Regions from separate parts of the Homo sapiens genome. Here regions 1, 2 and 4 are each linked to region 3. The links come from fine-mapping of genetic effects on gene expression. A gene starts in region 3. Each other region holds a variant in brackets. All regions are shown on one strand. Distances are from middle to middle.

Region 1 (5,155 bases), 30 kb after region 3:
TCAAGGGGCCCCAAGGCTACAAGGTCAGAACAGAAGCAAAGGCCACGTCCACCACCGACCCACCTCAAGAGCCACAGCCTCTCGGGTCTCCACAGCCCCACTCAGGTCTCACACACAGGCGCAGGGACTAGCCACAGGTGCAGCAACGTCACGTCTTTCCCCTGGGCGCGTGTGCAGCTCGAGGCTTTGCAGGAGGCGCACCTGCGATGGCCTTACCGCCAGGTGAGCCCGGCGGGCTCTCATCGCCTCAGCCGGAGATTCCAACTGCAGGGAGCGCACCTCCTCTGGCTAGGGCGTGTTTCCGAAGGATGGCAAGAATCCTGGCCTCTGATGGCTATCTTCTCCCCTTCCCCTCCAAGCCCAGTGTTGTGACCCTGTGCCCTCTTTCCCCTCAATTTTGGGCCCAGGAGTCAGGTACTAAGACTCAACAGTCACAGAGGGAAGTCAGGAGCTCCCTTGTGAAGGCAGACTTAAGCAAATGCATCTTCTTCCAAAGCCTTCATGTTTTTCTTAATGTTGGCTTCAAAAGCCTAGTTTGTGGCCCAGGCTGCTACTGGTGAGTTTCTAGCAGGGTGCTGGAAATCTTGGCCAATACCAGCCGACCACTCCCCCAGTCCCCTGGGGCGTGTTTCTGGGCTTTCCCATTATCAATTAGTTGGAAATTGCACATCGTGTCCTGGCCTTACAACAAACACCTGTTCTGATCTACAGCCTCTTGCTGAAGGAACAACAGGAGACAGACAGCAGGTGGCGGGGTGTGCCACAGGTATTGTGCTTCTTACGCTTAAGTTTTCTGATGAAGTCTCATTCATAGGATGAAGCCGCTGTATTTGAATTCTGGGGTGAACACAATAAGCTGCACAGGGAACAGACTCAGGCGCTGCTAAATCTGTTGTGATTATAGTTGCTTTTGCAAGTTTCTTCATTCATCCTATGTAGACAAGCCAGGCTAGACAAGGAATCCATTGTCTAGCATAGCAACTGGCACACAGTAGGTGCTTGGTAAATATCTGAATGACTTTATAATGCCCTGCACATTCTGCAGAGTTGAAGTGATCATTCTCCCAATACCTGTAAATCTGGAAGTATTTTTGCCTATGTTGGCACTGCCATACTTCTTTAAAATGATACTTTAAAAAGAAAATGTGTTCTTCAAATACAGTGCTTGTGGAAGAAGTCCTGAGGTTCCCAGTGATCTCAAATGCTGAGCAGTGGAAAGGAGACTGAATAACAGCATTATGATCTGTGTTTTTACTCTGTATTCATGAAATCTGATTATCATTTCCTCTATGTATTTTTTTCTTATCCCCTTCCCCTGCAAAATGAAAAAATTCGGTAGTGAAAAGTGTGAAGGAAAGACAATTGTTTCAGTTGAGCAGATAGGCTTATCAAACAAATGAAAACAAAAAAACACATAATCAAGAGTATGATGGGAGAGGAAAAACAAATTATTTTTAATGATTCACGGCAACCACATTTATATCCTATTGTTACTAGAGAAAAAAATGTCTTCAGATAACCAGTGGTCAGCAGATGAGGATGAAGGCCAATTATCCCGACTAATCAGGAAATCTAGAGACTCCCCCTTTGTCCCTATAGGTAAGTACAAGCCTTGACTGGATGCAGAAAACTGTAATAACACAATGATGCCTTACCCAGTGCCTTTGCGGATTGAAATGTTTCTTATAATTGAATTTTTTCAGATAATTGAAGCTAACCTCCTCTAAGCATGTGTTGAACTTTCAGAATAGTTCCTAATACATGGTAAGCCCCCAGTAAATGTTAGCTGTTATTTGAGGCATCAAATTTTATTCTATTTTATCCATTTCATTAGAAGTCTACCTAAAATTATTAGTTCCTAGCCAGTCAAATGGAATAGATTGAATGAATATTAACATTTCAGTCATAACTCAGGACCATCAACAGCAGCATCAGTTTATTATATTTAAAGCCTATTAGGGACTATTGAGATGCATATGTCTCTTTGTCTT[G/C]TAAGTAATCTAAACTTTAAGTTCTTACATCTTCTGTTTATAGATTTTTCTGTTTCTATCTTACTATTGGGCACATTAAAAACTTCTGCTTCTAGGCCGGGCACGGTGGCTCATGCCTGTAATCCCAGCGCTTTGGGAGGCCGAGGTGGGAGGATTGCTTGAGCTCAGGAGGTGCAGGTTGCGGTGAGCCAAGATCACACCACTGCACTTCAGCCTGGGTGACATAGTGAGACCCTGTCTCAAAAACAAACAAACAAATAAACAAAAAACCAAAAACTTCTGCATCTAATGTTTTTAATGCTCTGTAGCACCAGAAGCTAGATAACCAAGCTTGAAAGAACTGTGGGTCAATTCAGAGGAAAGCTCTGAGTAAAAGCCTGGATCTATCTGAACACTTGTGAGCATGAACTTTGGAGTGGTCATTTTGGCTGCTCAGTGGCCCTCTGTGCTGGCTTCTTGGTGTGCTCCAGGTGTTGAGTTTGATGGCAAAATAAATTCTGGACTAAAGAAGTGATACTATAATTAGGCCGGGCACAGTGGCTCACTCCTGTAATCCCAGCACTTTGAGAGGCCGAGGCAGGTGGATCACTTGAGGTCAGGAATTCAAGACCAGCCTGGCCAATAGGGTGAAACCCCATCTCTACTAAAAATACAAAAAGTTGGCTGGGCATTGTGGCACACACCTGTAATCCCAGCTACTCAGGAGGCTGAGGCACCAGAATCACTTGAACCCGGGAGGTAGAGGTTGGGTGCAGAGCGAGACTCCATCTCAAAAAATAAAAAAGAGAGATACTATAATTAGATCACCTAATAATCTGGACCCTTAGCCTCTTTATCCTTTCCCCACACATATTTAGTATGTTTACATTTTCAACAAGTATTATGTGTATGTGGACTTTAAAAAACCCCACAAAACCTAAGCACCAATATTATGTTTTGAAGTCTGAGCTTTCTCTTTCTTCTCCATGGATGTATACTGCAGCCATGCCTGTTTCCTTGTGTTCATTTTGTCTGGAAACTATTAAAATAGTTTACTTAAATCAGACTGACATAAGTTTGCAAAAATATTAATTCCATAAAAACTTCTAAATAGGTATGTCAGATGTTCCCGTTAAGTGTTACTCTGACTCTAGCAACTTCCTAAGTGTCATTATTCACATATCAAGAAAGAATCAAATTTTACTTTACAGTAATATTCTGTTTAGAAGTTTTAAGACTTATAATAGCACCCATAAGAAATGGAAGCAAATAATTTAATAGTGATTTATCTTCCTTAGCATTTTTAGTTAAAAAAAATTCGAAAACTCAATGCTACTTGAACAGATCACTATAATGAACAGAAATTAATTAATAAACAGAGACAAAGAGACATACGCACCACTGTGCCTGTTGTATATTAAATTATTTTTCCAGAGACATTTAGGATGATTAAAGTGGAAAGATAAAAGTGTTTCCAGCTAAATTCAATTATAAACAAACTAGAGACACTATATGGAAAACAGTAAAGGTTCTGACTTTAATCTCCAAAAGAAACAAAACCAATTTAAGTAAGAACAGAACTTTCATTTGATTAAGGGAATAGAGATAAGTTTTTGCTAAAAAATAAATAATGATAAAATTTGGTAGGCTGGGCACAGTGGCTCATGCCTGTAATCCCAACACTTTGGCAGGCCAAGGTGGGTGGATCACTTGAAATCAGGAGTTTGAGACCAGCCTGGCTAATGTGGTGAAACCCTGTCTCTACTAAAAATACAAAAATTAGCTGGGTGTGGTGGCAGGCGCCTGTAGTCCCAGCTCCTCAGGAGGCTGAGGCGGGAGAATCACTTGAACTCAGGAAGTGGAGGTTGCAGTGAGCCAAGATTGCGCCACTGCACTCCAGCCTGGGCAACAGAGCGAGACTCCATCTTAGAAAAAAAAATTGGATATATATCATTGAATAATTTGTTTAGCTATTGTCATTTTAACAATATCTACTATGTATTTTCCTGCTACAGGATGGAGGGTCCTATGCAGGTAACTTACAAAACATTTTTTGTTGGTTATCTTAAGCAACTTCCATCATTATAAATATATTTACACTGTTCAAATCATCTTACAATCACTGTTAAGGTCTCTGCATGCATTATATCTATTTAAAGTATGTGTTGACAGATTATTTGGCTTTGCTTGTTTCACTTAACAGCTCATACGTGCATTTCTGTGTATTAATACTCCCTATTCTTATTTATTTTTATAGCAATGGCAGTTTTTCTTCTGTTTGGGTTATTTAGGTTTTCCTCAAACATAGTGTAGCCCTGAACATCTTTGTGTCATTTTCTTGATTTTTCTTTTGGTTATTTCCTTGGAGTATGTTCCCAGAAGTAGAATTTCCAGAGCAGGAAGCATGTTCAGTTTAATATCATTTGTTATATATTTCCAGAGTTCTTTCTAGAAGGACTTGGCCAAACTTACAGAGCTTTCAGGGTTTTACCTGTTTCCTCATATGTCTACCATCATCATTTTGTTATTTTTTTTTTTGCTGTTTTTATGTCTGTAGCACATTAGTCATTTTTATTTATTGTGGATCAGTGTATAAAATATACATGTAAATGTAATGATTTACTGATTCTTATTTCCATTTATTAAATGGATCATGAAAGAATAAATATATCCTTACCCACCCATAGACACACATATGCCAACATAGTTATTCCAAACATGCTATCCACATAAAAATTACTTGCTTTTTTTTCTTTTTTTTTTTAAAGACAGAGTTTCCCTCTGTCGCCCAGGCTGGAGCGCAATAGCACAATCCTGGCTCACTACAACCTCCACCTCCTGGGCTCAAGCGATTCTCGTGCTTCAGCTTCCTGAGTAAGCATGCGCCACCACACCTGGCTAATTTTTGTATTTTTAGTAGAGACAGGGTTTTACCATGTTGACCAGGCTGGTCTCAAACTCCTGACCTCAAGTGATCCATCAGTCTCAGCCTCCCAAAGTGCTGGGATTACAGGAATGAGCCACCATGCCCACCCAGCCTGCATTTCTTCTTTTAATCGATCCTTACATTTAGATTAAAATTTGCATTTCTATATACTAACAAGAAGCATCTGGAAACTGAAACTAAAAACATAATACCAACCAGGCATGGTGGCTCACGCCTATAATCCCAGCACTTTGGGAGG
Region 2 (5,155 bases), 54 kb before region 3:
CCATGCAAATATATGGAAATTAAATAACTTGCTCCTGAATAATCATTGGGTCAAAAACAACATCAAGATGGAAATTAAAAAGTTCTTCAAACTGAATGACAATAATGAGGCAACCTATCAAAACCTCTGAAATACAGCAAAGGTGGTGCTAAGAGGAAAGTTCATAACCCTAAATGCCTACATCAAAAAGATTGAAAGGACACAAACTGACATTCTAAGGTTATACTTCAAGGAACTAGAGAAACAAGAAAAAAAAACAAACCCAAACCCAGCAGAAGAAAGGAAACAACGAAGATCAGAGCAGAACTAAATGAAATTGAAACAAAAAAAAAATACAAAAGATAAGTGAAACAAAAAGCTGGTTCTTTGAAAAGATAAATAAAATTGATAGGCCATTAGCAGGATTAACCAAGAAACGAAGAAAGAAAATCCAAATAACCTCAATAAGAAACGTAACAGGAGATATTACAACTGACACTACAGAAATACAAAAGATCATTCAGTGCTACTATGAACACCTTTATGCACATAAACTAGAAAATCTAGAAGGAGTGGATAAATTCCTGGAAAAATACAACCCTCCTAGCTTAAATCAGGAAGAAATAGATACCCTGAACAGACCAATAAAAAGTAGCGAGATTGAAATGGTAATTTAAAAATTACCAACCATAAAAATCCAGGATCAGATGGATTCATGGCAGAATTCTACCAGACATTCAAAGAAAAATTGCTACCAATCCTTTTGACAATATTCCACAAGATAGAGAAAGACAGATTCCTCCCTAATTCTTTCTATGAAGCCATCATCACCCTAATACCAAAACCAGGAAAGGACATAACCAAAAAAGAAAACTACAGACCACTATTCCTGATGAACATAGGTGCTAAAACCCATAACAAAATACTAGTTAACAAAATCCAACAACATATCAAAAAGATAATCCACCAGCTGGGCACAGTGGCTCACACCTGTAATCCCAGCACTTTGGAAGGCCAAGGTGGGCAGATCACCTGAGGTCAGGAGTTTGAGACCAGCCTGGCCAACTTGGTGAAACCCTGTCCCTACTAAAATTAGAAAAATTAGCTGGGCATGGTTGCAGGCGCCTGTAATCCCAGCTGCTTAGGAGGCTGAGGCAGGAGAACTGCTTGAACCCAGGAGGCGGAGGTTGCAGTGAGCTGAGATCGTGCCACTGCACTCCAGCCTGGGCGACAGAGGGAGACTCCCAGCTACTCAGGGGGCTAAGGCAGGAGAATTGCTTGAACCCGGGAGGCAGATGTTGCAGTGAGCCAAGATTGTGCCACTGCACTCCAGCCTGGGCAACAGAGGGAGATTCCATCTCAAAACAACAACAACAACAAAAAACAAAACAAAACAAAACAAAAACCATGATAATCCACCATGATCAAGTGGGTTTCATATCAGGGATCCAGGGATGGTTTAACATACACAAGTCAATAAATGTGAAACACTACATACACAGAATTAAAAAAAAAAATCACATGATCATCTCAATAGATGCAGAAGAGGCATTCGGCAAAATCCAGCATCGTTTTATGATTAAAACTCTCAGCAAAATCAACATACAAGGGATATACCTCAATGTAATAAAAGCCATCTATGACAAACCCACAGCCAACATAATACTGAATGGGGAAAAGTTGAAAGCATTCCCTCTGAGAACTGGAACAAGACAAGGATGCCCACTGTCACCTCTCCTCTTCAACATAGTACTGGAAGTCCTAGCCAGAGGAATCAGACAAGAGAAAAAAATAAAGGGCATCCAAATCAGTAAAGAGGAAGTCAAAGTGTCACTGTTTGCTGACAATATGATTATTTTCCTTGAAAACCCTAAAGACTCCTCCAGAAAGCTCCTAGAACTGATAAAAGAATTCAGCAAAGTTTCCAGATACAAGATTAATGTACACAAATCAGTAGCTCTCCTATATACTAACAGCAGAGAATCAAATCAAGAACTCAACCCTTTTCATGATAGTTGCAAAAAAAAAAAAAAATACTTAGGAATATACCTAACAAAGGAGGCAAAAGACCTCTACAGGGAAAACTACAAAACACTGCTGAAAGAAATCATAGATGACACAAACAAATGGAAACACATCCCATGCTCATGGATGGGTAGAGTCAATATTGTGAAAATGACCATACTGTCAAAAGCAATCTATAAATTCGATGCAATCCCCATCAAAATACCACCATCATTCTTCAAAGAATTATAAAAAAGAATTCTAAAATTCATATGGAACCAAAAAAGAGCCCACAAAGCCAAAGCAAGATTAAGCAAAAAGAACAAATCTAGAGGCATCAAACAACCTGATTTCAAACTATACTATAAGCCCATTGTCACCCAAACAGCATGGTACTGGTATAAAAATAGGCACATAGACCAATGGAACAGAATAGAGAACCCAGAAATAAACCCAAATACTTGCAGCCAACTGATCTTCAACAAAGCAAACAAAAACGTAAAATGGGGAAAGGACACCCCTTTCAACAAATGGGGCTG[G/A]GATAATTGGCAAGCCACATGTAGGAGAATGAAACTGGATTCTTGTCGCTCACTTTGTACAAAAATCAACTCAAGATGGATTAGGGACTTAAATCTAAGACCTGAAAGTATAAAAATTCTAGAAGATAACTGGAAAAACCCTTCTAGATATTGGCTTAGGCAAGGATTTCATGACCAAGAAGCCAAAAGCAAACGCAATACAAACAAAGATAAATAGCTGGGACTTAATTAAAGAGATTTTGCATGGCAAAAGGAACAGTCAGCAGAGTAAACAGACAACCCACAGAGTGAGAGAAAATCTTCACAATCTATACATTTGACAAAGGACTAATATCCAGAATCTGCAACAAACTTAGACAAATCAGCAAGCAAAAAAAATCCCATCAAAAAATAGGTTAAAGACATGAATAGGCAATTCTCAAAAGAAAATATGTAAATGGCCAACAAACATATGAAAAAATGCTCAACATCACTAATGATCAGGGAAATGCAAATCAAAACCACAATGCAATACCACCTTACTCCTTCAAGAGTGGTCATAATCAAAAAATTAAAAAAAAAAACAGTAGATGTTGGCATGGATGTAGTGATCAGGGAATGCTTCTACACTGCTGGTGGGAATGTAAACTAGTACAGCCACTATGGAAAACAGTGTGGAGATTCCTTAAAGAACTGAAAGTAGAACTGCCATTTGATCCAGCAATCCCACTACTGGGTATCTACCCAGAAGAAAAGAAGTCATTATTCAAAAAAGAAACTTGCACACGCGTGTTTATAGCAGCACAATTCGCAATTGCAGAATCGTGGAACCAACCCAAATGCCCATCAATCAACTAGTGGTTAAAGAAACTGTGAAGGCCGGGCGCGGTGGCTCACGCCTGTAATCCCAGCACTTTGGGAGGCCGAGGCGGGTGGATCATGAGGTCAGGAGATCGAGACCATCCTGGCTAACAAGGTGAAACCCCGTCTCTACTAAAAATACAAAAAATTAGCCGGGCGCGGTGGCGGGCGCCTGTAGTCCCAGCTACTCGGGAGGCTGAGGCAGGAGAATGGCGTGAACCCGGGAAGCGGAGCTTGCAGTGAGCCGAGATTGCGCCACTGCAGTCCGCAGTCTGGCCTGGGCGACAGAGCGAGACTCCGTCTCAAAAAAAAAAAAAAAAAAAAAAAGGAACTGTGAAAAAAATATATATATATGCCATATATATGTACATATATATGACGTATATGTACATATATATGACGTATATATGTACATATATATGACGTATATGTACATATATGACGTATATGTACATATATATGACGTATATGCACATATATATGACGTATATGTGTACATATATATGACGTATATATGTACATATATATACGTCTATATATGTACATATATATGACGTATATATGTACATATATATGACGTATATATGTACATATATATGACGTATATATGTACATATATATGACGTCTATATATGTACATATATATGACTATATATGTACATATATATGACGTATATATGTACATATATATGACTATATATGTACATATATGATGTATATATGTACATATATATGACGTATATATATGTACATATATATGACGTATATATATGATGGAATACTACTCAGCCATAAAAAAGAATGAATTAACGGCATTCGCAGCGACCTGGATGAGATTGGAGACTATTATTCTAAGTGAAGTAACTCAGGAATGGAAAACCAAACATCATATATTCTCGCTGATATGTGGGAGCTAAACTATGAGGATGCAAAGGCATATGAATGATGCAATGGACTTGGGGGACTCAGGGGAAAGGGTGGGAGGGGGGCGAGGGATAAAAGTCTACAAATAGGGTGCAGTGTATACTTCTCAGGTGATGGTTGCACCAAAATCTCACAAATCACCAGTAAAGAATTTACTCTTGTAACCAAACACCACCTGTACTCCAATAACCTATGGAAAAATAAATAAAATAAAAAAGAAAGCCAAAAGACAATGAAATATCTTCAAAATGCTGAGAGAAAGTAACTATGAGCCTACAATTGTGTATCCAGCAAAACTATCATTCAATAATATCTGTGAACAAAAAGTGAATTTACTACCAACAGTCTTTCACCAAGGAAGTAAAAGAAATATCAGAAAGAATGTAAATGATGCTAAAAGGGAAGTATAAGACGTAAGAAGGAACAAAAAAAGACATGGATAATATATAGGTAAATGTAAATAAACATTCTCCGTACACAACAGTTGTTCTCACTTGGGCATAATTTTGCCCCCAGGGAACATTTGGTAACATATCTGGAGAAAATTTTTGGATGTTAAAACTGGGCAAGCGGATAAGTTTGCTACTGGCATCTGCTCAACATCCTTCAATGCATAGTATAGTTCTCCCATCTCCCACACAAAGAATTGTTAGGCCCAAAATGTCAGTAGTAGCAAGACAGAAACCTTAAAATCATAAAAATAATGTCTAAGTTGTGGAGGAAAGGCAGGTATTTCAGGAGGGGTGATCAGAGTCAAACTGGTTTCAGGTCCCTGTATTATTCAGGAGAAGTATTTAAATACTGATTAACATTATATTTGTTACACATAAATGGTCAAATTTTAGTAATAGCAATAAATTCCTAAAAGG
Region 3 (5,155 bases):
GAAAAGAGTGTGTCACCAGAAGGATAATGAGGTTGTCTGATTTGTAAAAGGAAATATCTATAGCTGGAGATAAATGGCAAAGTTGTCCAGCCAGGTAGGTTCCCAAAAGTATTTTAATTTTCTTAATGATTATGTCTGGGGTTACTTTGGTACTTTTCTTACAAGCAAACTTTGTGGCCATAGGCCTCTCCATTTTAAAAAGAATAATTAAATTCTCTACAAAATTACTTTCATTCTCCTTTGCTGAGGGCTTTAGAATCTTCCAGTCCTGTGGAGTTGCTCAGTTTCTTCCCTGGATCCTGTTTTCAAAAACAGACAGAAGGGCAACCCGCTCGGGTCCCCTTCCACACTGTGGAAGCTTTGTTCTTTCGCTCTTCACAATAAATCTTGCTGCTGCTCATTTAAAAAAAAAAAAAAGGAAAGGAAACAGGCCACAGACAGAAAACAGGCCACTGATTGCCTCAGGATTAGGAATGCAGAAGGGAGGATCACAATGGAGCAAGAGTAATCTTTTAGGGGTGATGGATATGTTCATTTATCTTGGCTGAAGTGATGGGTTCACAGGTATATAGATATGTCAAAACTTATCAAACTGTACACATTAAATATGTAAAGTTTATTATATGTCAATTCCACCTAAAAAAATCTGTTAAAAATGGAATAGATACAATATTTATAAAATACATGCAGGTTATAACAAATCATGAAACAACAGAACACTCCCTGTATCCATCACCCAGTTTTTTAAAGTAAATGTTTACTATTTTTAAAAAATTATTTTTTTCTGTGTTCCCTAGCCACCCTAAAGCTCAGGCCTTTTTCTTTTTCTTCTTTCTTTTTTTTTTTTTTTTTTTTAAAGAGATAGAGTCTCACTATGTTGCCCAGACAGGATTTGAATTCCTGGGCTCAAGGTATGCTTCTGTCTTAGCTCCTCAGTAGCTGAGACCATGGGCACCCACCACTGTGCCCAGATTCGGGCTTTCTTGTAAAAAGCGGATGGATGCTTGAAACTATTTTCTGAATCCCTTTGGCTCCCAAATGTGAATATTCTGGGAAATATTTTTATCCAAATTAGCTGAGTAATCGAGTAGTTAGGCACATTTTGAAGACTGAGGCTTGTCCTTTAAAAGAAGGGCAGCCCACAAACTGACTTCCTTGAGCCAAAAATTGTTTTAAAAGGGGAAGTACAGCCCAAAACAGTGATTTTAAAATATCAACAAAAAGAGTCAAATTCTGTAAAATATTTAAAGAGATTTATTCTGAGCCAAATATGAGTGACCATGTCCTGTGACACAGCCCTCGGGAAATCCTGAGAACATGTGCCCAAGGTGGTCAGGGTACAGCTTGGTTTTCTACATTTTAGGGAGACATGAGGCTTCAATCAAATACATTTAAGAAATACATTGGTTCAGTCCAGAAAGGCAGGACAACCCGACGCGAGGCAGGGAGCTTCCAGGTTATAGGTACGTTTTAAATTTTTCTGGTTGACAATTGGTTGAGTTTATCTAAAGACCTGGGATCAATAGAAAGGAAATGTCTGGGTTGCAATAAGAGTTGTGGAGACTGAAGTTTTATTATGCAGATGAAGCCTCCAAGTAGCAGGCTTCAGAGAGAATAGATTGTAAATGTACTTAAGGTCTGCGTTGATGTGAATGCCGGCTTGAGGTATAATGAGGCATATCTGACCCCCACTTCCCCTCATGGCCTGAAACAATCTCTCAAGTTAAATTTTAAAAGCGCCCTGGCCAAGGAGAAAGTCCATTCAGATGGTTAGAGGCCTTAGAACATTATTTTTGGTTTACAAAAACGTTGAGTTGTGAACACTGAGAGCCTCTGCCCAGAATGTAAAAGAGAGAATTCTTGCTGACTGTGGCCGGGCATGCATGTCCTTTCACTTCCTTTTTTTTTTTTTAAAAAAAAAAAAAAAAAAAAAAAAAACAGGGTTTGGGCGGGGGAAGTAAGGGGGATGTGTTATGATAAAGGGGCCTTGGCAGCACTCTTCTGGTGTGGTTTGACCAGGCTCCACCCACGAATTCTGTTTTCTTTTAGAGGTCACTGGAGAGCCCGGTGGGGTGTAAGTACACTGCGCTTATAAAACTCTAGCAGGAAGCTAGCAGCTGTCTCCAAACCCAGAGAAGGGGAAACAGGAATCGATTAGGAATAAAGGATTATAATCCACTTTCCTTCTGAGGAAAAGCTGGGAACCTTCTCATTTTGCCTTATGAAAACTAAGCTGAATCGACTGCTGCCAAACATCTATTAGGCAAAATTGGCCTCTTGCCCATGATTTGACTTTCCAGCACAGCCAGTTCTTTTTCTCCTCTGCAGCTGATTGGCTCTGGAGTGTGGCCAGAAGCCTCTCTCCTGCAATTAAAGGAGTCGGGTCTCTAACTGTTGATCTGTTTTTTTCCCTTCTGAGCAATGGAGCTTACCATCTTTATCCTGAGACTGGCCATTTACATCCTGACATTTCCCTTGTACCTGCTGAACTTTCTGGGCTTGTGGAGCTGGATATGCAAAAAATGGTTCCCCTACTTCTTGGTGAGGTTCACTGTGATATACAACGAACAGATGGCAAGCAAGAAGCGGGAGCTCTTCAGTAACCTGCAGGAGTTTGCGGGCCCCTCCGGGAAACTCTCCCTGCTGGAAGTGGGCTGTGGCACGGGGGCCAACTTCAAGTTCTACCCACCTGGGTGCAGGGTGACCTGTATTGACCCCAACCCCAACTTTGAGAAGTTTTTGATCAAGAGCATTGCAGAGAACCGACACCTGCAGTTTGAGCGCTTTGTGGTAGCTGCCGGGGAGAACATGCACCAGGTGGCTGATGGCTCTGTGGATGTGGTGGTCTGCACCCTGGTGCTGTGCTCTGTGAAGAACCAGGAGCGGATTCTCCGCGAGGTGTGCAGAGTGCTGAGACCGGTGAGTGAAAGGGTGTGAGGAGGACTAGTTAGTAGCAGCTATTATCATAGAGGGCAGGCCTGTCAATTTCAGGTGGCTGAAACATTTTAACATAAAAAGTAAACTACTAGAAAATACTGTAGAATTTTTTAAAATTTTAGCGTGGGAGAGAAGCTATAAAGAGAAAGATTGATAAATCTGAATATAAAAACTTAAAACTGCTATAAAGAAAAAACCTCCTGGCCGGGCACAGTGGTTCACGTCTGTAATCCCAGCATTTTGGGAGGCCAAGGCAGGCAGATCGCTTGAGGTCAGGAGTTCGAGACCAGACTGACCAATATGGTGAAACCCCATCTCTATTAAAAATACAAAAATTAGCCAGGCATGGTGGCAGGTGCCTGTAGGCAGGAGAATCGCTTGAACCTGGTGGGGCAGAGGTTAAAGTGAGCCAAGATTGCACCACAGCACTCCAGCCTAGGCAACAGAGTGAAACTCCATCTCAAAAAAAAAAAAAAAAAAAAAAAGAAAGAAAGAAAAAAAAGAATAAGAAAAAAAAACTCCCCAAAACAAAGTTAAACTACAAAACAAGCTTGGAAAAAATATTTGCCAGGGATGATAGACAAAGGGTTAACTTCCCTCATGTTAAAAGACATTACATGTCAATAAGATCAATATTTTTCAATAAGAAAAACAAAAGGGAAAATGGGCAAATAACAGGAACAGAAATGTAAACCAATTATAGGACAAAAGTGCTCAAACTTAAAGAGTTAATTAAAGGAGATACTAATTTTACCTATTATACTGTTAGGGACTTCTTTTAAGGTCAGTATAGGGTTGGGGTGGGTTTAGGGGACTGGACACCACCATACACATTAGAAGAGGTACCCTCTTTGGGTGGTATCTGATAATATCAAAATTTAAACCACACATACTCTTTTATCCACATGCAAAAACTTGTCCATACACAAGAATATTAAGTAGAATTTGTAATTGCACAAACTGGAAATAACTGAAATGTCTATCAATAGGATGCTATGTAAGTGAGTTGTCATATTGTATAAAGGAACACTGTGCAGCTGTCAGAAAGAACAAGAAGAGTTATCTGTGCTGATACTTAAAAATCCCCAAGGGATAATGTTTAATGAAAACAAAAAGCAATCAAGCCACAGAATGTTAGGTAGAGCGTAGGCCCACCACATGCCCATTGTGTGAGGCAGGGAGAGGAGATACATATATGTGTATAAGTTAATGGGAATGACAGACAAGTAACTATTAACAGTGGTTGCCTTTGGGGAATGGGATTGGATTCAGGGAAAGAATTACTTTTCATTTTAAACCTTTCCGTAAAGTCTGTAATTCTTTATACCTGTATGTAGTTTTCACATATTACCCTTATTATTTTTAGCTAGTTTAAAATCGTTTTATATTCTGAACAAAGTTGAAGATATGGATATCTTAACATTTGAATTTACTCTTCTGGGGGAAAGGCATGTTTTGTAATCCCCAGTTTTCATTTTTTGTTGAGACAGGGTTTCCCTCTGTCACCCAGGCTGGAGTGCAGTGGCATGATCACAGCTCACTGCAGCCTTGACCTGCTGGACTCAAGCAATCTTTCCGTCTCAGCCTCCCCACCCTCCCAGCAGCTGGGACTACAGGCATGCACCACCACACCCAGCTAGTTTTTGTATTTTTGTAGAGATGAGGTTTCGCCATGTTGCCCAGGCTGGTCTCAAACTCCTGGGCTCAAGTGGTCTGCCCACTTTGGCCTCTCAAAGTGTTGGGATTACAGGTGTGAGCCACCATGCCCAACCATCAGTTTTATTTTCTAATAGAGGAAGTTCCTCAGGAAGAAAAGAACTTGGAGATAGGGTTTAGGGAAAATCATACAATCCTGTCTTGGCTCAATATCAGAGTAGTAAATAAAAAAGGACTGATTCTTATACCCAAATGCTGGGTTCTTATATGCTAAGACTGGGCACCAACTGGCACATTAGTAGATGTTTTGCTTACAGTGTTACTAATCTCCCAACACCGCTGCAAGGCAGGTAATTATTATCTCAGTTTTCCAGTGCCAAAAATCAATTGAACTCTTAAAGTTATCACATTCGTGATAGTCTTCCTTAGCTCCTGCCAAGCACCCACTCTCTGCTGGATATAACAAGGGAACTTTATTACATTTTCATTTAACCCTGTCAACAGTCCTCTAAAGTACATATCTTCATGTTAGGACAAAGAAACAGACTCAGAGAGATTAAGG
Region 4 (5,155 bases), 920 kb before region 3:
CTTTTGGATTAACCTGCTAATCCAAGAGGAGAATAATGCAAAATGAGAGTCCCAAAATAGATTTCACATAGCAAAAACACTTTAGTGTCATTTTATCAGGACAAATATTGGCTTCTACGGATCAAAGCAGCCACCCACCTCTCAAAGTAGTGGAGCAAAATGCATTAAAATGGATACAAAGCTATAATGCACTGGAACCAGACAATTTGAGTTTACTGAGGCATCTAACACTGTATACCAAGATGGATTAGTCCCTCCCAGTAAAGGCTTTCCTTTGCATTATGACCCATCCTGGCACATCAAAATGATAGTGTTCTGTGTCAGTCACATTGCTCAACTGGTTGAATACATCTAGCCTTTTACCCTGAATTAGAGAGGGGTGATGAAAAGAAGAGTCACAGTTGTCTTGCCTGTATGTATGACAAAGTACCAGCTACTCATGTAAGGATGGATATTCCGGGTAGCACTTAAAATAAACAATGAAGGATGGCCAATAACTTGTGACAGATCAAGTACGTTAGGATCTCCCTCCCTCCCTTTTCCTCTAATTCTTTAAGTTCTCATTTGAAATCTGTCTGTTAAGTAAGTTTCAAGTCTAAGTGACAAAAACATTTAAATTTCAAATTATGAAGAACAAGATTCCTAGTCTGCAATTTCAGCTCTAATCATGGGCAAGCTGTTAAAGAACAGGTCACTTTCAGTTCTTTAATGTGGAAGAAGAAACTAGGTATATTTGGCAAGTGGAAACTGTCAGACAATGCCTTCCCCCTCCTGCATCATCACTGTTCTAGCACGGAAAACAATACACACCAGCTTTTCGCAGTCAGCCTCAGCTCTCTGTCTCCGTTTGATCTCTACATCCACCTGATTACGTGCATGCTTCAGCTTAACATCCAGAGCACTTCGCTCAGTCTCTGCTTTCATCAAAAGATCCTTGTATTTCCCCAGCTCATGGTCAGTCCTCTGCCACTTTTTACGGAAATCCTCAAAGTCCTTCGCCAACTGGATAAATTCTGAGGAAAGGGGGAATCTTTAATAATTCAAGCACCAAACAGAGTATAACTGCTCTAATAAATGAGTCCTACGGTTAGCTTTATTTGAAATTCATAATTAAGGAACCAGCTGAACTATGGGCAAATCCAGCTGAAAATAACTAGGAGCAGATCCTGGATATGTTTGTCACTCTGATGAGAACTTTGTGGGTAGCAATTCCTATTCAATAGGCCACTTACTTTTGGCTTAGCCAGTGGCATCTGCTATGGAATATGTAACTCATTAGTCACCTGGCTCCAGATGTAACACTAACACTGAAAGCTCCTGAACAGAAGGCAATCAAAGGGGGATACCTTTGGGGCAGCTGTCATGCACCAGGACAGTTACAGCTATAAAACAAAAACAGTTTCCTTTACAGTCACGCATTGCTGCACCAGAGAGATGTTAAACAGCAAATTCAAATGTAACTGCTGTAATATGCTCCAGTAGATGTAGATTAATATTACAGATGTCTAGACCTACAATTCCATTTGGCTATATAATTATACAAATATTGATTTGAAAGTAAAAAGCCAATTTGCTTTTGCTGTTTAACACTGCCCTGAAGGGTATGTAAACATTCCAGTTGAAAAAAAAAAAAACAGGAAGAGAAGATCAAACTAGCTTTTGGAACATCCCTGATAGCAGAATGTGAAGTCTCTTCAAATGTCTGCAAAGAGAACATCACTTCCAAGGCAGCATCTCAAAGGAAGAAGATAACCCTGTTGGCATTCATTCTTATCTCCTGCTATTGGCAAAGCTGTTCTGCAATGTATTTGCAAAAGTGCCTTACAATTTTCTAGTTAACCTCCGTCTATCTCTAAGGATCACTCTCCACCAACATCAAGGAAGAAGGTCTCAAGGTGTACATCTGCTGCTGGTCAAACTAACCCAGTTAAAACTGAAACTAGGCCAAATTCACACACAGCTAGCAGATTCTTAGGTAGTAAGGGCACTTTTCCCCTATGAATTTAACCTAAAAGCA[T/C]AGAAACAATACATAGTCCTTTTTAAACAATTTTAATCATTTGACCAAATATCAAACTTACAAATCAGGATACCAATTTGTTCCAGAAAAACCAAGTAATAAGGAAACTTTAGTTTTTACAAACCACAAATTTCAGCAAAATAGGTTATTATGACCTAGTTATCTTAAACAATGCGGATATCAACAATTAAAAAAATATTACAATTCAAATAGTTTTAAGAAATAATATGCTGGGTTAGTCTGGAACATACTACTTTTTTGTGGGTTTTTTTTTTTAGCTTAAAGAAAAAAACATATATGTTTGCAAACTAAATACCGTATGCATACACACTCAAAATATTTACCGAACTGAAAAACAATTTTGAGAATAAAAAGATTTTCATCTGACCTAATTTTGCTGGTTTGTTTGTTCTTTAGGATACTCCTTTTATTAAATTACTGCTTCAGCTTAGTTTAAGTCAGACCCAAAGCAGAACATTTACATACCTGATTAATATATTACTTTTTGTGTGTGCAGGTGAGAAATGTGAAAAAAAAAAAAAAAAAAAAAAAAAGATATTACTTTTTTTTTTTTTGAGACAGAGTTTCACTCTTGTTGCCCAGGCAGAAGTGCAATGGCGCAATCTTGGCTCACTGCAATCTCCGCCTCCCAGGTTCAAGCAATTCTCCTGCCTCAGCCTCCTGAGTAGCTGGGATTACAGGTGTGTGTCACCATGCCCAGTTAATTTTTGTATTTGTAGTAGAGACGGGGTTTCACCATGTTGGCCAGGCTGGTCTCAAACTCCTAACCTCAGGTGATTCACCTGCCTTGGCCTCCAAAAGTGCTAGGATTACAGGTGTTAGCCACTGTGCCCAGCCTACTTTTCACTTTTGAGACAGTCTTCCTCTGTCACCCAGACTGGAGTGCAGTAGCACAATCTTGGCTCACCGCAACCTCCGCCTCCCAGGTTCAAGCAACTCTCCTGCCTCAGCTTCCTGAGTAACTGGGACTACAGGCGTGTGCCATCACACCTGGCTAATTTTTGTATTTTAACTAGAGATGGGGTTTCACCACGTTGGCTAGGCTGGTCTCAAACTCCTGACCTCAAGTGATTGACCTGCCTCAGCCTCCCAAAGTGCTAGGATTATAGGCATAAGCCACCATGCCCGGCCGAAAGATACTATTTTTATGTACAATTCTGCTATGAGCAAAGTTTGCTGGGATTGGGTCAGAAGGCATTTTGGGCCATAGATCAGAAACAATTTTGATGTTGAAGACCAATAATCATGGCACTGTTTTGGTCAGTTGGTGAATCACAATTCAGCTTGGTACCAGCCTGCCATGAAGTGCACATTAAAAGCTTTATAAAATTCAGGCCGGGCACGGTGGCTCATGCCTGTAATCCCAGCATTTGGGGAGGCTAAGGCAGGCAGATCACTTGAGGTCAGTAGTTCAAGGCCAGCCTGGCCAACATGGTGAAACCCTGTCTCTACTAACACAAAAATTAGCTGGGTGTGGTGGTGTGCGCCTGTAATCCCAGCTACTCGAGGAGGCAGAAGTCGCAGTGAGCTGAGATCGTGCCACTGCACTCCAGCCTGGGCAACAGAGTGAGATGCTGTCTCAAAAAAAAAAAAAAAAAAAAAGATTTATAAAATTCAAATTACAGTACCTCCTTTAAAAAGTTACGTACACCCTAAACTATGAAGTGCCCCTATCAAAAAGGAGGAAAGAGAAGGGAAATTTCCTCAAAACAAATTGAGGGTGATCTTTGATTTATTTAAAATTTAAAAATCAGGATTTGGTTCATAGCTCAGCAAGCAAATTTAAGTGGGTCCAGAAATCCTGATTTTTTTTTTCCATTTACTCCCGGAGGCCTTTGAACAGGCTCTTCCATTTGCCTTCCCTACTACCCTCTCTAAGCTTCTTAAAGACAAAGACCCTATGTCTCCTTTGCTCTTTTATCTCCAGTGTTGTAACCTGCCTAGCACACAGTAGACACTTGAAATAATCTGTTGAACAAATGAATGAATGAAAAGCCGCTGTTCAAATTAAATTTACCAGCATCCAAGACCACCTTACCAGTTTAATCAAACTTACCTCCCACCACTATGCAATAAATACCCCTCTAGCTAAACCAGTCTGTCCCTGCCCCCAGAACAGAGGCATTCCTGCCTTCTCACTTGTGACCAAGCTATGCACTCCAAATGGAATGCCCTACCTATTACATACCCATTTACCAAGTCCCATCTGGTCTGTGAATCTTTTCCTAATCAGTTTGCTACACACTAAATTTTTCTAGATTACCCAAAAGCATATATTTTGATACTTGTACTATCTTCTGTTTCATGAGAAAAAAATCCTGTCTCTGAAACTAAAATACCATAATCTTCTTGAAGACAGGCAATATGTCATATATACTTCATTATTTCCTACTATGCATAGTGTAGCACAAACCTAGTATGTCACTGGCACACAACAGGCACCTGATAAATGTTAAATTATACTTATTCCTAATTTATACACCAATGATTTTTTTTAAAAAGCTCAGGCAGCTTATGAAAAATTAAAAATAGAACATAAAAACTGTGTGGACTGGAGAAAACAAGACAACAAAATATGCTATTAAAGTCATCTTTTTTAAAATATTAACTTTCATTCTGATCTTCCTGTAACTTGGACTTAGCTCTCTTTTTTTAACTTTTTTTTTTTTTTCTTTTTTAAGAGATGGAGTCTCACTCTGTTGCCCAGGCTGTAGTGCAATGACATGATCTTGGCTGACCACAACCTCCACCTCCTGGGTTCAAGCAATTCTCATTCCTCAGCCTCCCAAGTAACTGGGATTACAGGTGAATGCTACCACGCCCGGCTAACTTTTTGTATTTTTAGTAGAGACGGGGTTTCACCATGTTGGTCAGACTGGTCTTGAACTCCTGACCAAGTGATCCACCTGCCTTGGCCTCCCAAAATGCTGGGATTACAGGTGTGAGCCACTTTGCCCGGCCCGGACTTAGCTTTTTAAAAAACAATACAGGCCAGACACCGTGGCTCACGCTTGTAATCCCAGCACTTTGGGAGGCCAGGACAGGTGGATCATCTGAGGTCGGGAGTTCGAGACCAGCCTGACCAATATGGAGAAACCCCACCTCTACTAAAAATAC

What was found. PIP is the estimated chance that this variant, and not a neighbour inherited with it, causes the effect.
Region 1: its variant is the best candidate, but not a certain one, in a credible set for the expression of TMT1A in whole blood (TOPMed, PIP 0.60).
Region 2: its variant is the best candidate, but not a certain one, in a credible set for the expression of TMT1A in whole blood (INTERVAL, PIP 0.75).
Region 4: its variant is the best candidate, but not a certain one, in a credible set for the expression of TMT1A in whole blood (INTERVAL, PIP 0.53).

Annotation. Positions count from the first base shown.
Region 1 is chr12:50,952,494-50,957,648 of GRCh38, forward strand. It overlaps HIGD1C (HIG1 hypoxia inducible domain family member 1C), which reads left to right and starts at 51. Exons shown (of 5, transcript NM_001109619.4): 1 at 51-222; 2 at 712-766; 3 at 1,498-1,599. The coding sequence starts at 1,506. It also overlaps a transcript of SLC11A2 not described here. RefSeq lists an enhancer at 133-633. The variant G/C (reference allele first, on the strand shown) is at 1,992.
Region 2 is chr12:50,868,854-50,874,008 of GRCh38, forward strand. The region is part of intron 3 of TMPRSS12 (transmembrane serine protease 12); the gene reads left to right. Among named protein-coding and RNA genes, the nearest start is that of TMPRSS12, 29 kb to the left of the region's middle. The variant G/A (reference allele first, on the strand shown) is at 2,523.
Region 3 is chr12:50,922,618-50,927,772 of GRCh38, forward strand. TMT1A (thiol methyltransferase 1A) reads left to right here and starts at 2,398. Exons shown (of 2, transcript NM_014033.4): 1 at 2,398-2,919. The coding sequence starts at 2,422. RefSeq lists enhancers at 1,512-1,721, 2,735-3,278.
Region 4 is chr12:50,005,624-50,010,778 of GRCh38, forward strand. RACGAP1 (Rac GTPase activating protein 1) reads right to left here. Exons shown (of 17, transcript NM_001319999.2): 3 at 811-1,013. Among named protein-coding and RNA genes, the nearest start is that of RACGAP1, 17 kb to the right of the region's middle. The variant T/C (reference allele first, on the strand shown) is at 2,018.